2 separate regions of the Homo sapiens genome follow, and region 1 is linked to region 2. Evidence: fine-mapped expression QTL. A gene starts in region 2. The other region holds a variant in brackets. All regions are shown on one strand. Distances are between the middles of the regions. Region 1 has its middle 23 kb from the start of CEP19. Region 2 holds the start of CEP19 (centrosomal protein 19).

Evidence for each region.
Region 1: its variant is fine-mapped to the expression of CEP19 in whole blood (TOPMed, PIP above 0.99).

Annotation. Positions count from the first base shown.
Region 1 is chr3:196,687,760-196,690,664 of GRCh38, reverse strand. No RefSeq gene overlaps it. Among named protein-coding and RNA genes, the nearest start is that of CEP19, 23 kb to the left of the region's middle. The variant G/C (reference allele first, on the strand shown) is at 1,521.
Region 2 is chr3:196,710,930-196,713,834 of GRCh38, reverse strand. It overlaps CEP19 (centrosomal protein 19), which reads left to right and starts at 1,585. Exons shown (of 3, transcript NM_032898.5): 1 at 1,585-1,906. It overlaps PIGX (phosphatidylinositol glycan anchor biosynthesis class X), which reads right to left and starts at 1,458. Exons shown (of 6, transcript NM_017861.4): 1 at 1,191-1,458. The coding sequence starts at 1,302. RefSeq lists silencers at 1,059-1,688, 1,523-1,835.

The DNA of each region.
Region 1 (2,905 bases), 23 kb after region 2:
CCCACTCTGGCACCCTCCTCCCACAGGCCTTCCTCCCGTCCTGCTGCCTCCATCAGTCTCTTCCTCTGGCAGCCAAGGGTTGCCTCTCCAAGTGGTCCCAGGAGAGAAATCCTAGGGCCACGTATCAGTCAGAACACTAGTCCTGGACACCTGTGTTTCTCCTGCCCGCAGGCAGACCCTTCGGGAGACACTTGACCAGCGCAGGCCCTTGGGGGGCAGCTCGCCAGGTAGGACCCCTCCCTGCCAGCTGGGGTTTCCCAGCTCCCCACGCTTGAGTTCTCCTACCTAGAATCTTCTTAGGACTACTTTTAACAGCTGCAGTCCTCTCTGCTTGCTTTACGCCTCCCGAGACTCGTTGTTGCAAAAGTCTTTCTGTGCTAGAGACCCAAACTTTGAATCTCTACTCAAGCTAGTGGTTCTTAGACTTCAGCATGCACCAGACTCATCTGTGGGACTCACGATAGCGCAGATTGCTGCGTTCCACCCCCAGAATTTCTGATTCAGTAAGTCTGGGGTGGAGCCTAAGAATTTGCATTTATTTTCCTTTTTCTTTTTTTAATTTGTTTGAGATAGAGTCTCGCTCTTGTCACCCAGCCTGGAGTGCAGTGGCGCAATCTCAGCTCACTGCAACTCCCACCTCCCAGGTTTAAGCAATTATCCTGTCTCAGCCTCCTGAGTAGCTGGGATTACAGACGTGTGCCACCACGCCTGGCTAATTTTTATATTTTTAGTAGGGACAGGGTTTTGCCGTGTTGGCCAGGCTGGTCTTGAACTCCTGACCTCAGGTGATCCGCCTGCCTTGGCCTCCCAAAGTGCTGGGATTACAGGTGTGAGCCACTGCGCCTGGCCAAGAAATTGCATTTCTAACAAGCCCCCAGACCACACTTTGAGAAGCGCTGTGCGAGGCTTTTGCTTTCCTTCACTGTTGCTGTGGGTATTGGTGTTCCAACCCACAATTCCCTTTTGCTCATACTAGCTTCAGTATATTCCAGTGTCTCTCTGCTTATAGGCTTTTTGTAATAATCTTATTTCTATGGAATTCTGATATACTATGGCCTTTTTTTTTTTTTTTTTGAGACGGAGTCTTGCTCTGTCGCCCAGGCTGGAGTGCAGTGGCACGATCTCTGCTCACTGCAAGCCCCGCCTCCCAGGTTCACGCCATTCTCCTGCCTCAGCCTCCCGAGTAGCTGGGACTACAGGCGCCCGCCACCACGCCCGGCTAATTTCTTGTATTTTTAGTAGAGACGGGGTTTCACCATGTTAGCCAGGATGGTCTCGATCTCCTGACCTCGTGATCCGCCCGCCTTGGCCTCCCAATATACTGTGGCCTTCTATTTTAACTATCCTACGACCACTGGCTCTGTGGGCCAGGGTTTCACCCTCACACAGGTGCTATGCACTTAGAAGGCATTCTTTTTTTTTTTTTTTTTTTTTTTTTCAGATGGAGTTTCGCTCTTGTTGCCCAGGCTGGAGTGCAGTGGCGCCATCTCAGCTCACCACAACCTCCGCCTCCGCCTCCC[G/C]GGTTCAAGTGATTCTCCTGCCTCAGCCTCCTGAGTAGCTAGGATTATAGGCACACACCACCACACCCAGCTAATTTTGTATTTTAGTAGAGACAGGGTTTCTCCATGTTGGTCAGGCTGGTCTCGAACTCCCGACCTCAGGTGATCTGCCCGCCTCGGCCTCCCAAAGTGCTGGGATTACAGGCATGAGCCACCGTGCCTGGCCTAGAAGGCATTCTTGCTGAAGAAATTCGGCGGAGGGAAGGATTCATGCAGGCTGGAGCAACAGGGAAAGCTTCACAAAAGGAGTTGGAGTTGAGTGTGTCCTCAAAGGGAGATTTGTCTGTGTAGAAGGGAGAGGAACGAGCATTCCTGACAATGGCTCCTGGACATAGGAGCATTTGTTGGGATGACACGGAGGAACAGACTCTCACTGGAACACACATCTCTTCAATGAGGTGGTGAAATACATCATGGGAAGGAGCCTGTCTGTACCAGAACTCTTACAACCTATTAAGTGCAATTAGCCTCGCTGTAGCCAAAGGGATGTTGATTTTGCTCAGCAGATTGTTATTCAGGATCCCCAGGGACAGTGGTGCTGTGTGGGCAAAGCAGCGTGGGCAGCAGCAGCGTGGGAATGGGTGTGTTCACTCCCGAAGCCCAGGACAGATAACTCCACTTCTTGTTTCTGTAGAAAGAAGTGTGGCAAGAGCTGACCCGAGGAAGAAGCTTTGCTCAATAGGAAATGAGCTATGATGATGAAATGAGGAAGCCCTGCTGGGCTTCAGCTTGATGGTTCTGAATTATAAAGAGAAAAGAATGTGCAAAAAGCGAATATGATCGTGGAAAACTGGAAACACTCCAAATATCGAAAACTGGAAACACTCCAAATATCCATCAATAAGACATTGGTTAAGTGAATTGCGCAGTGTCCATGCTGCGGCATACTATGAAACCCTTAGGCAGAAGAAGGTAGCACTGGGCATAGTGACCTGGAAATAACTCCTAGCTACATGGTTAAGTGAGGAAAACAAGTTGCCAAATAGTATATTATAATTCTTTGATTTAAAAAATATATCAGTAAAAACTCTTGAATGAGGCCAGGTGCAGTGGCTCACACCTGTGATCCCAGGACTTTGGGAGGCCGAGGCGGGCGGATCACCTGAGGGCAGGAGTTTGAGACCAGCCTAACCAACATGTAGAAACCCCATCTCTACTAAAAATACAAAATTTAGCCGGGCGTGGTGGCGCATGCCTTTAATCCCAGCTACTCGGGAGGCTGAGGCAGGAGAATCGCTTGAGCCTGGGAGGCAGAGGTTGCAGTGAGCCGAGATCACACCATTGCACTCCAGCCTGGGCAACAAGAGCAAAACTCAGTCTCAAAACAAAAACAAAAACAAAACAAA
Region 2 (2,905 bases):
GACAGAGTCTCCCTCTGTCACCCAGGCTGGAGTGCAATGGCGCGATCTCGGCTCACTGCAACCTCCGCCTCCCTAGTTCAAGCGATTCTCCTGCCTTAGCCCCCTGAGTAGCTGGGACTACAGGGGCACGCCATCACGCCCCGCTAATTTTGACCCCTTTTCAATTATAAAATGCTAACGTTGGAAGCCTCTACAGATTACCAAATCCAACTGTTTAAAAATTCTTCTGGCCGAGCATGGTAGTTCACACCTGTAATCCTGGCACTTTGGGAGGCTGAGGAGGGTGGACCACCTGAGGTCAGGAGTTCAAGACCAGCTTGACCAATACGGCGAAACCCCGTCTCTACTAAAAATACAAAAAATTAGCTGGGCATGGTGGCGGGCACCTGTAATAATCCCAGCTACTTGGGAGGCTGAAGCAGAAGAATTGCTTGAACTTGGGAAAGGCGGAGGTTGCAGTGAGCCGAGATCGCGCCATTGCACTCCAGCCTGGCAACAGAGTGAGACTCCATCTCAAAAAAAAAATCTTCTTGGCCTCATAATCCTTTGTTTAGATAAACTTGAAAACCCAATATGTAAACACACAAGCAGAACTGCACTGATTGACAGATACTAAACGGATCTAAATGATACCAAGGATGACAGAAACATCCTCATTTTACAGATGGAGAAACTTGTAGGGTTTGTGCTTTCCTCCCATCAAACCTTACCCTTTATTGTAATTATTCCCGCACTTGCCCGTCTCAGTAGTACAAGCAGTTTGCCAACTACTACTTGCACGAACAACTAGCAGTTTGCCACGGAGTCCTACATTCAGTTTGGGGATTCTCAGGCCTCACAGGGCGCTAAGGCCTTGCCTGGCCCCTTGGTGATCAGAAGCTTCGTGCAGCTCAAGAGCATCCCAAGACGCTTGACGGCTGACTTTCCTTCTCAGAACTTTAGTAACAGGGCGGCCAGTCCAGCCTGGGAACCGCAGGGCCCGAGCCCGACTCTCCCGGAGACCCGGGATCCGCCGCAGAGCAAAGCGCACGGGAGGGAAGGAGGGCACACGGCTCTAGTGTCTGACCTCCTCCGGCTCGCCCTACTGATCTAGGTCCCGCGCCGGGTCCCCACATCCCCGCAACCCGCCGAGAGGCCCGGGAGCCGGGACCGCTCCCACGCTCTGGCCCCCCAAGCCCCGCCCCCCTTACCGGCGTCAGAGCGCGCGGCGGTGAAGGCCGCGGCGGGCCCGCGCGTGAGCCCGGTCGCCGCCCCGAGGAGCAGCCAGGCGGCCGCCCGAACCGCCGCCACCCGAGCCGCCAGGACGCCGGAAGCCGGACGCCCGAGAGGGGCGCGCGGGGCCAGGTGCGGACGCAGGAAGGGGCCTGGCCGCCCGCAGCTCCTACCGCGCGCTGCCCCAGATTTATCGGCTGGGACCGAGTGCTGGGTGCGCGCGCCTAGCGCCCGCGGTTCCCAGCTGCCTGCAGCCCCGGCCCCCAAGGGTTCCCGCGCGGCGTGGGGCGGTCGTCCCCGCCCAGCTGTTCCTTGCTCCGCCCACCCGGGGGCGGGCGAGGAGCTGCGCACGCGCGGGGACGCGCGCCCGGCCTGTCGCTGTGGAAACCGCTAGGCCAGCGCTCGCCGGGACCTGGAATCCCTGTACGCCGAGGTGGGAGCCGGTGGACCGGTCCCCCAGCCGGCCCCCACCTCCGCTTCCCGGTGTTTGAGGGTTCGGGCCTCCCGCCGGGGAGTTCACCCCTCGGGCTCGTCAGTAGGGCTGTGGCTGTCGCCTCTTCCTGCAGCGCCAGGCTCCGCCCGGTCTCACAGTCGGCTTAGGGGCTTTGCGTGCACTGCGGTTGGGTGGAAAAACCCACTCCTGGTTGTTTAGACGTTGGCCTGCAGACGATGTCATTTCTGTATTCCTCTAAGGGTAAGAAAGCCAGCCTTGCACTAGTGGAGACGTGAGTAGGGAGAGAATCGTCTACTCTTTGGGGACATTCGTACCCTTAGGTGCTGTGGGGCTTCCTAACAAGATTGTGGGCAGTTACTGATCTCTGGGGAGAGGAGTATTCGTGTCCAGGAAGAATAATTGGATAAACGTGCCGTCCTTCTTCCTAAACAGAGTGGAATCTGTAAGCAGGCCAAGAGAGCATCCAGGCGGCTTGGAGTGGAATAGAGGGCTCTAGAGCGGGTGTCTCAAAGAGGAAACAGAGTGTATGTCAAAACATACTATCCAAAACTGAAAATAGCCGGGCAGGTGGCTCACGCCTATAGCCCCAGCACTTTGGGCGAATCACCTGAGGTCAGGAGTTCGAGACCAGCCTGGCCAAGATGGCGAAACCCCGTCTCTACTGAAAATACAAAGATTAGCTGGGCATGGTGGTAGGCACCTGTAATTCCAGCTACTCGGGAGGCTGAGGCACGAGAATCGCTTGAACCCAGGAGGCGGAGGTTGCAGCGAGGGGAGATCACGCCACTGCACTGCAGCCTAGGCGACAGAGGGAGACTCTGTTTCAAAAGAAAAAAAAAAACTGAAAATGGTAGTATAAGCATGTTTCTTAAGAAATGGAGAGAGAAATTTTGGAAGATATGCCTTTTAAAATTCAGTCTGGCTCCCTATGAAGAGGAGTAGGGCCAAGGACGATAGTTTGTTGTTATAAGCCTCATAGAATTATTTTATATTCCAAATACAAACATTACTTTAGCAAAAATTAAAGTTAAATTTTAAAAAGAGTCTAGTAAAAAAAAAACTACATTATTTGAGTACCAACTGCATACATCTTTGACGAGTACAGCCATTGCTTCAGTGTGTGGAGTTTATATGTGCCCCGTAGGTTGTAGTTTACTAACATCAAATTTTAGTTAGGTGAATTGGGAATAGTATTCGTTAAAAAAAAAAAAAAAGCAAGAAAAGAGAAGGAAAAGAAGG